Regions from separate parts of the Homo sapiens genome. Here region 1 is linked to region 2. Evidence: fine-mapped expression QTL. A gene starts in region 2. The other region holds a variant in brackets. All regions are shown on one strand. Distances are between the middles of the regions.

The links. PIP is the estimated chance that this variant, and not a neighbour inherited with it, causes the effect.
Region 1: its variant is the best candidate, but not a certain one, in a credible set for the expression of MS4A4A in whole blood (TOPMed, PIP 0.50).

What each region holds. Positions count from the first base shown.
Region 1 is chr11:60,336,666-60,342,056 of GRCh38, forward strand. It overlaps MS4A6E (membrane spanning 4-domains A6E), which reads left to right. Exons shown (of 5, transcript NM_139249.4): 3 at 1,076-1,282; 4 at 3,201-3,299; 5 at 4,111-4,676. The coding sequence ends at 3,290. Among named protein-coding and RNA genes, the nearest start is that of MS4A6E, 12 kb to the left of the region's middle. The variant T/C (reference allele first, on the strand shown) is at 2,467.
Region 2 is chr11:60,277,412-60,282,802 of GRCh38, forward strand. MS4A4A (membrane spanning 4-domains A4A) reads left to right here and starts at 3,255. Exons shown (of 7, transcript NM_148975.3): 1 at 3,255-3,305. The coding sequence starts at 3,265. RefSeq lists a silencer at 3,140-3,189.

The sequences.
Region 1 (5,391 bases), 59 kb after region 2:
TACACTTCAGTCATTATGTTGGGAAATTGGGGTCCCAGAGCATCAACTGGTGAGTTCCTAAAAGAAGAAGTGCCCATATGGGATTAAATAACACTCTACTGTATGGCTGTGGGATGTGCCCTGGAGCCTACCTACCTGTAACAATAGCTTTCAGAATGCTGTGAGCTCAGTTCTCTTTTCTGTGTGAGTTGGAGTAAAGGAAGTCACTTCTGAGGTCAGTTTATTTATTTCCTCCACTTCATAAATGTAGAAATGAGAACCAGAGTGGGAAATAAAACCAAGGAACTGAGTACCCAAGGGAACAAGCTGGGTCAAGTCTATATTGTGACCTCAATTTTCTGACATCCAGTCCAGGCCTTTATTCTGTACCTCCCGCTGCCTCCCACACATTACACCATCCTTGGGCCCGCACCTAGACCTCTGCCCACAGCCACCCCATGCTGCGCTCAATGTGGCCAGTCATATGCCTGCCCAGGTTCCAGGGCCTGCCTGAGACTCAGAACCACCCCCTCACTCATCTTTGAGAGGTGTGCTTTTGAGAGAGGCAATAGGCACGCAAAAGTGAGCTATTAGGTTGGTGCAAAGGTAATTGCGGTTTTGCCATTGAAAGTAGTGGCAAAACCCAAAATTACTTTTGCACCATGCTAATACACCATCCAGATTTTCTGTGTGGTTGATGCTTGCACGAGGGGTTTCTGAGTTGGCCGAGAGAGAAACTGCATCTGGTACATTGCCACCTTTGCTTGTGGTCACACTCACAGTAATTTTCCAGGCAAGCCTCGTGGGCCCTGCTATCTGTCCCAGGGAAAGAATTTAGGAGAGTAACATTCTCTACCACACTACTGAGGTCCTGTTTGAGGGGAACCAGTTCATATGTTCATTCATTCAGCCAAGTTTTACGTTGCAGATTCTGAGTTTTTGGCTGGACACTGGAGAGGCCTACAACAAGAAATGATCCCTCCGGGACTTCCTGAGGGAGACAGATAAGGGAATAACTTGCAATGTAATGGCAAAAAGGGATAAGAGAGATTCGTGGCCCTTTGGGAATGATTCTTACCCAGCATGTCTCTTTCAGGTGCATAGCAGCCTGGCTGGAAGCATTCTGAGTGCTCTGTCTGCCCTGGTGGGTTTCATTCTCCTGTCTGTCAACCCGGCTGCATTAAATCCTGCCTCATTGCAGTGTAAGTTGGACGAAAAGGATATACCAACCAGACTTCTTCTTTCTTATGATTATCATTCACCTTACACCATGGACTGCCATAGAGCCAAAGCCAGTCTGGCTGTAAGTATTTTTTAGATGGGATGTTCTAATTTTATGAGGTTTCTGAAAGCCTTGATTTCTTATTATTCCATCCTTTGAAAATCTCTCTGTTAATTCTGGTTTGGGCATCTGGAGGAAGGCCAAGGTTATGTAAATCAAAGGGGGGCTGCATGGATGAGATTAAGGGGATTACATACTAACAGAGTGGAATTGAAATGTCAGATAAGGTTGATGATGAAAAACTAAAACTTACGGTTTGTAGAGTTTCTTAATTACTCAACTAATCTAATTTTGGAGGCATAAATTATGAGTTTGTCAAACTGAGAATGTTGGTACATAGAGTGGTGAATTCAGATTGGCAAACAGAGCAGAAAGACCCGGGTGATCAGAAAATGCTGACAAGGAAATGTGGTATGTGTGTGTGGTAGGGGGTCAGTTTGGTCTAAAAAGACATCAGACTAAAGATGAAGAAACAGAGAATAGGAAATATGGGGTTAGATGGTAAGGGTTTCTCCTAATGATTACAATAATGAATAATACTAATCAGGTGAAACGGTAACATTATTATTGCTTTTTGTTATAGCTGAAAGAAGTGTGATATCTTAAATCAGGAGATAAGAAATATAGGGAGATGGAGAGTGTAACTGAGAATTATCGCAGGAGAATTCTCTCTCTTTGGAAGAAGAAAAACAATGAAGTTTGGCTAACAGAAATAATGTGTCTGAAGTTGAAAAATTAAGGGGTATGTGCATGGCCAGCAACGCATTGAGAGGAAAACAGGCAACATAAAAGTAAAGAAGTTGCAGAATATTTATTGTCCTGCAATCATAAAAATGAGGTCAGCCAAGAACTCACCTGGACGATGGACAGATAGAAAGGTCTGGTCAAATTCATGCTTGTACAGCACCCATTATAAACTGAGCCTTGCTTCCAAGGTAATGGTATAATGAGGAAAAAGTGCATGCAAATGAGGCTGACAGTAATTGGTACAAATTCCACCTTGGGAAAAATTCTGGAGAGAAATTTGGGAGAAATTTGGTAGTGATAAAGTATAAATTCATGATGGGACGATTTTATATTGGAAATAAGAGAGATTCTGTTGAGCTTGCTTGCTGGAACAATTTCTAGGTAATGGACACAACATGTATCTTCTATTTAACTGTGTGTAAATACCACAAAACAAAAGTTCATGTGATCAAATTACC[T/C]CCCTTTATTATCAGATGACCAGTTCTGCACAAAGAATGTCTCAGGACAGAAATGGTAGAACTCATCCTTGTGAGTTGGTGTTGGTGATTAGCAACAGTTTACTACCTTCACTGTTTTTTTCCAAGTCTTAAAACACCAAAAACAGCAAAAATAAAAAATAAACAACAAAAATAAAAAACATCCAAACAGGTTCAGATACATAGACAGGGATGTCAATACTGAATTTTACAAAGGGCTTACACAGCCAAAACCTCCTTGATCCTCACAAATCTCTGAGAAATAAATGTTAGTATGCATGTTTGATACATGAGGAAACAGGAGCTAGAGAAAGAAAGAGACTTGTCCAGGCTTACACAGCTACTCAGCAGTAAAGATGAGACTATAATGGAGCTGCTGATTCTCAGTCCTGGGAGCTATTACGCCACTCTGCTCTCTTACTGAGTGAACAATGTCATCAGAACTACGTACGTCTCAAAGAAGTGAGAAACAAGTGTATGAAATGGATTAGTTGATTTAGTTACTACTCATCTTCCCTTCTCTTCTCAAGAAACTGAATGAGTGAAGGAGTTGAATTAAGACAATTGTGAGGAGGAGCAGTTTTGTTTTCCTGATTGTTTCCTTACTTCATTCTCTAATGGTTGAGGTGGTCTTCATCTCTATGGTCACCTCTAAACTAGGCATGAAAGCTTCGGCTGACCCAAGCATCACTGATATTTTATTTCTTGACTTTCAGGGAACTCTGTCTCTGATGCTGGTTTCTACTGTGTTGGAGTTCTGCCTAGCTGTGCTCACTGCTGTGCTGCAGTGGAAACAGACTGTCTGACTTCCCTGGGTGAGTGTGCTGGCCAGCCTCGCTTAATCTTGCCTAGTGTATCTTATCTCTGCACTGTGTTGAGTATGTCACCAAGAGTGGTAGAAGGAACAATCAGTCAGTCATGAGATACACATGGGAGGTCATTTAAATGGTGATGGAAGACCGAGAAGAAAAGCAGATGGTAATTGAGTAGCTGACAAGCTGAGAGTTCACTGGATATGAAAATAGTTAAAATGAGAAATCAACTGGTTCAATCTTCCCATTTTGTCATTGAAGGGAATGAGACTCTGGGAAGTTAAATGACTGGGCTGGCATTATGATATGAGTCTGTACCTGTGCTGAGGACGCTAGAACCTGGCTTGCCTCCCTTCTAAGCAGAAACAATTTCTGCCACAACCACTAGTCTCTTTAATAGTATTGACTTGGTAAAGGGCCTTTACACATGTGACTGGATCCAGTGAATGTCTTATGCTCTGCTTTTCCTCCTGGTGATTTTAAAATTCTTTTTCCTTTTAAAAGATATATTAAAAATGTATTGTTGAATCAAATTCCAAGGGATACCACCCCTATGGACTTATTGCTTTATTTAACTGAATTTAAAAGCCTTGATTTATCCAGAATTTTATTATAGAGAATAGAAGAATACTAGACTGATAAATTGTAATTATTTGAAGAACCCAGTGATCTGCTCTACTTGTCTTGGATTAGCTAAGAATTCTATGTATACAGTTGGAAAAAATGGCATATCCACATGTATCTTGAACCTGAGTAAAGTCTGAAGACCTAACATACTTTGTTTCTTCTAAAGTGTGCTTTTCCTGCCTCACAGTTACTCATGTCCTCAAAGACGACTCATGATGCTGGATATGAAGAACTATTGACTTCTTGGGAAAAAACGGAGAAATATTAATTGGAAAGTTGATTTTTATGATAATATGGAAAACCTAACCATTATAAAAAAGCAAACTTGAGTTTCCTAAATGTAAGCATTTAAAGTAATGCATATTTGTTTTAAAAAATTATTTCGCTGTCATTTATGATATGTGTTCATTGGGGATCTCTTGGTTTGCCTGATACTGACTTCAGCAAAAGCACAGGGCTGTAAATTACCATTTACTAGACTAGCCAAATAGTCTTAGACATTTCCCAGAAAACTAGGCAGAATGATGATTCAATGGATCACAGTGAGGCAAAGGATACAGCTTTTTCTTATACTCCTCAATTGTGAACAGGAGTTAACTGATTTGCTGTGGTGCGCAGACTCTTTTATCACAGGTGCTACTGATTTATCCCATGTATTTTACTCATTAGTGCATAAAGGCAAACCCCATAATGAAGTCTCCGAGTGTATGAAAGTAGCCGGCTTCAAAATAAAATCTTTGAGTGCATACTTTATTTTAATACTTATTTTGTTATTTTTTCCTTTAAACACAGAATAAATCAACAATGACAGACATAAACCCAAATTTTAACTCAATTTTCTCCTCACCAATATTCAAACAAAACTAACGAGTGAACAAATGCTAACCAGGAATGCTTATCTGTTATGAAGAGACAACCAGTTCATACTTACGTCCTTATTTCAAAATAAAAAAGACGAATTGTTTGAGTATAACAAACATAAGCCTCACCTTGCTCATGCACACACACGCACACACACACACACACGTGTAAAAAAGTATTTCAATTTTATATGACCTCCATTTCTTTGAAAGATTTTGTCATATTTCCTTGCTCTGACCCTCTGTAGCAGGGGTCATACTTCATACTCACTGTCTCAGATATCCTGATACTCAGAGAGTTTCTCTGCTCTTTTTTTCCAGTCTCAAATGGAACTGTCAGTTTCTTTGATTTTAGCTTTATCTTCAAATCTGTTTCATTAGGTCTTCTCCCTGTCCTTTGCACCCCCCACTGACACACACCATTTCTTTTATTTATTTGCCTATTGTGGACATTCAACTTTTATTGATACTTATTGGATACCAGACACTATGCTTTTAATGCCAGGGCTACCAAAGTGAATAAGATACATGATTTGGCTTCAAGATATTTATAGTCAAATAAGGAAAACAGAGATGACAATGAAGTTAGGGATTTCGCTAACTGTTAT
Region 2 (5,391 bases):
ATATAAGGCGCCAGGAAGGGAGAGTGTATACAGAAAAATACTAATGAAACAGATCAATTACCTGTGGGTCTATAGACACTGAGATTTACATTTATGGTGGAGTATTTAAAACAACTTATTTTCAGGTATGTAGAAAACAGCATATGAAACATGAGGCAGTTACTAACTTCAGAGAGAAAAATGGTCAAAAGGAAGCGTAATCATAACACTCATAATGAATTAGCCATTAATGATTTAAATACTATAAATTGAGTTAACTAAAAAATCGTGATAAAACTATATGGGAGAATGAGGGAAAAGGAAGTGTTATGGTGGGAAGGTGTGTCCAGGGTAAAAATGAAGGATATAGGGGTTAGTCTATTGTCTTCAGTAGTAGGAGGTTAGTGCATAATATATAAAACCAAAAATTAGAACAGTATTTAAAATCATTCACTTAGAAATATGGAGTCAACACAAAAAGAAACAATTAAAATTTAAATACTTGCTTCTGGAGAAAGAAAATTGATTGGGAACTGGGGAAGGGGGCACTAATGATTTCTTTCAGGCTAAATCCAGTGAACATTTTACTGTTGTTAGCTTGTCTCTCTGAAGTATTTAATAATAATTGAATGATTTCTTCCTACTGAAATATTTCTGTGCTCAAAAAATGATAAGTAATTTATTTATATTACCTAATATAACCCTTTCAACAACGCTATGACATATTACTATCTATATTTTACAGATGAGTAAACTGAGGTGCAGAAAGCCTAAGCAACTTGCTCCAGCTCACATAGGGCATAGGATTCAAAATCCAGCTCAAGGCCGGGTGCAGTGGCTCACGCCTGTAATCCCAGCACTTTGGGAGGCTGAGGAGGGTATATTACTTGAGATCTGGAGTTCGAGAACAGCCTGGCCAAAATGGTGAAACCCAGTCTCTGTTAATATATAATATAACATATTATATAGAGATACATTCTATTATATATATAATATATTCTATTATAATATAATATATATTCTATTATATAATATATATTATATATTATATCTATTATATATAATATATCTGTATATGATATATAATTATATATAATATATAGATATTCTATTATATATAATAGGATATATATTCTATATATATAGAATATATATATTTCTCTGTCAAATTTCATGTTATTGTTCTCTTGAAATTGTTATCTGCTAATAATAACCTGATACTGTCTCATTTCATACCATATGGAGTGGGAGGAGAGACTGATGCCTGTCCTTAGTCCAGAATTTCAACCTCTCTTAGGAAGTCATGAAACTCTGTACCCTTGTCTTCTGCAATGCCACATTTTCCGAGTTTGCCTGCTATCTTCCTTACCCTCTTTTTCATAATCCTCTGGGAAATCTTATTTCTGATTATACTGTCTCTATCCTCTAGAAAAAGGGTTTGACGTTTTCTGCCTCCACCCACAAGCCTGGGTGACCTCATCCCTCTGGGCGAAGAGCTGTTGGGTTTACCTCTATAGCCATGTTCTCATTCCCTAGCTCCTGCCAGTTATCCACTTCTTGTCAACTTTATTTGAAGGTCCCTACACAACTCTGATCAAATACGTTCAAAATTTTACTATTTGTTCCTGCAGTTCTGTCCTGGTCCATGTCTATTGCCTTACTGAATGGCTCTATCACTCATTCAGTTTCCTAACCCAGAATCTGAGTGTCATCCTTTCCTGTTTTTTCTCCTGATTTACACATCCATTATACCAACAAGTACTGTCATTTCTTGTTCCTAAGCATCTTTCAAATCCATTCATTCTCTCCAACTTCACTAGCATCACAGGTAGTTCAGTAACCATCATCCCTTCCCTAGAGAACTGCCTCTACCTTGAGCCTAATTCTCTGATTTTATTATTATTTATTCCTGTTGTCTGAAACCAGGACAATATTTCTGAAATATAATCTATTTTAATTTTGAGAATCGTAATTTCAGATTATAGACCACATAGTTTTTGGAATTAAGTAAAACTGGATTTCAATCTCATCTATACCAGCTATACGAATATCTCTGAGTTTCAGTTTCTTCTTCTGAAAAATAGAAATAATAATATTACCTTCCTTCATTCCCTTTCCATTTGTGTGTCTTTTGCTCATTCATCAGGTCTCCAATTAGATGTCCCCTTATCTAGGAAGTCTCCTCTGCCTACCCAATGTTGGGTTCATTGATCCTCCTATGAGCTCTCTTAGGATATCCTACTTTACCTTGCAGATCACTGATTACAATGGGTTGTAATGATGTATTTACTCATCTGTATTGCCACTTTACCTTGCAGATAACTGATAGTAATGGATTGTAGTGATTTATTTACTGGTCTGTTTTTCCAAGTAGTCTATAAACTCTTTGAGTGAAAATTATTTTTTACCATTTTTTCAGAAGCACACGGCACACTGCTTGGCTTATAGTAGTTTTTCTAAAGAAAATGCTGAATGAATGAAAACTGCACACCACTTTGCTTTCCTCCTCCATGTAAAGTAGGCATTATTTTATTTTACAAATGAATCTTAGGTTCAGGAGATTAACAGGGCCATGCAAGAAATGTTTGCCATTGGTTTGATCTTAGTCAAAGACCAGCTCGTTCTATGATACCAGCTGCTTCCTTCACTTAGAAAGGTGTTGTTTTATTGCCATACAACCAACTTGTTGCCATTTTATGGCCACTCCTGATGAATCTCTAAAGGTGGAATTTCATGTAAATAAAACATTTAAGTTGTGTATATTAAGGTTGGTGCAAAAGTTAATTGTGATTTTGGCCATAAAATAATGGCAAAAACTGCAATTACTTTTGCACCAACCTAATAAAATAGTAATAGTAGTGCTCCAGGAAGACAAGAGTACTGTGGAAATGTGTGACCCTGTGAAAGGGGGTATTTACAAAATACCATTTACTTGTTTATATAACGACTTTTGAAGAGAGTCTGGCATACAGTAAATCCTCTACCACTGATATCCACAGTAATTAGCAGTATTATTTTCATAGGAAAGACTGTATCAGGCAGCCCCTGCTTTTTCAGCAAATTTCAAAATAGACATCCACACCCATATTGGGAACACAAAATCAGTTAATGCTTCCGATATAAAAGAGGAACTAGCTGTGCGTCTCAGAAATTCTCAGCACAGCCTTTAAGGTTCCAAACATCTGCTAGAAGAGGAATGCAGATTTAAACTGAGTGAGGTGTGGAGTGGGGGAAGTTGATTGGGTCTAGACCAAAGAACTTTGAGGAACTTGCCCAGAGCCCTGCATGCATCAGACCTACAGCAGACATTGCAGGCCTGAAGAAAGGTAGGTCCAGGGACTTGCCTTCCTAGGCTTTCGGGCTGATGGCTTGTTTCACTTCCTGGGTTAAGAATTTCTGGGAGGGGAATGAGAAGAATAATGAGGCCACTTCCCATGACCCAAGCTGGTATTCAGGGTTGGGGTGGGTTGAGTGCACCTTTAAATGTGCATTCGGTGGGGGGATGAGGAACAGTTTTTGCTACAGTCGATAGGAGTTAGAAAAGCCTCCTAAAGGCTGACATTGGAGGCTGGATAAGGTTGTTTAGTTACTTTTGTCCCCTGAGTCTTCAGGATATCAAAACACTGAAAGCAACATTTTAAACCTTTGACTAGTTACCTCATCTACTGTTAATGCCCTTCTTCTGTGGTCTTTATTCTCTGTGTCTGACTGGTTATTTTTATAACTCAGGATTTAAGAACAGATGTATCACATGCAGAATTTGGTGTACATGGAGTAGGGCACAGGCAGGGTCCCCAGCCTTGTACATTTAGATGGGCTGTGGCCTGACCTAGTTCTCCAGTGGTCTTTGGCACTATTCATGGGGCACCCAGGCAGTAAACTGAGGCTGCTCATGATAAAATCTGCTAATGAAAAACACCTTGTAGACTTTTAGCATTCTTAGGATAAGAAAGAAGCTTGTAAGTGGTCGTGGCCATTGTAATCTTTCCCCAGATGAAGTAAAAGAAGCCAATAAAAGGGAAATAATGTACCCAGAATCACACAAGTTAACAAAAGGGCTGGGAGAAAAACAAAAACAAAAACAAAAACAGAATTCTTGGTTCCTAGCCCGGGCCTTTCCCCCTTTTCCCTTCCCATGCCACCACTTCTGCATCCCCATCATCCTTCTAAAACCATCCAGATTCAGGCCTCATTTTGGGTTTCTAGTCTATTTGACAACTTTGCCAAGAAAAACGGATGGCTGTTTGTACCACTCTCCTCATGCTCTCTCCTTGCAATTGTGACCCATGAGGAGGATGGTGACATAAAAATGAGGAAATAAGAGACTGGTGGTGCTGCTGATCCACAAGGTGACTGGGGCCAATAGAAGAGGGAAGGGTGGTCTGGGTTTCCCCACCTCTTTATCAGGGGTGTGGGGGAAAGACATTGTATTTCTTAAGAGCCTGATGCATATAGGTGATGTGGCAAAACCAAGGTTTAAATTCTTCTCCAACCTGGAAGAAATGTCCCTCATATGCATCCAATATTCTCAGCAGTTAAAAAAAAAATTGAATATAGAGAAGTCAAGCCCTGGATGGTAAACACGTTTTTGTTCTTGGGGACTTCATGTGCCGTAGATAATTAACACAAGGATTTCTGTGGTGGAAAAAGAGGAGGCAGTTATATGAATTTATGGCCAGAGTTTCTTAGAATGACAAAGCACCAGCCTTGAATGACCAGAACCTGACCTATGTTACCAAAGAATTATGGGAAAGCATAGGAGTCAGTTACAAGCTTTATTTTGATATAATTGCTCTGCCCTCGAGGAAGCTTACAGTCTTACCAGAGAGGCACTAAACACAGAGAGAGAACCACCAGTGCGTTTGATAAGACAGACCCAACATGTCCTAAATTCTCAGTCTGAAGGTGTGCCTGAGAGATTGAGGCAGAGGTTCTTTTACATTAAAGAAGAATAAAGTACACATTTAGATGGACTAAGAAGAATCATCTTTAGTCACTTTCCAAATAACTTTGACTTTTGCAATGTAGAAGGAACATAACACATTTCTTAAACCCTTATTTACCGTCATAGGCTGACTAATCCACATGTGGGCAATGGTGGGGAAGTGGGGGAATAGTGTCTGAGAGAAGATAGAGACTATAAAATGCTGTTCATGTGTGAGAAGATTAGATGATGTGGTGGGTTTGTTTTTGTTCTTACAAGGTGGTCACAAGAGGGGTGGAACATTCCTGCAAATGGTTTCAATATATGCAGATGTCTCAATATAGGAATGAAATTACGTCTTTGGAACAACTTAAATAAGTCAAATATACTTGGAGCTTTAAAAATTAAAAGGAGAGAGATTCGAGGTAAGACTACAATAGATTTGTGCTGAAGTAGCCGAGCTTTTGTTATCAACATTAAAAATTTTA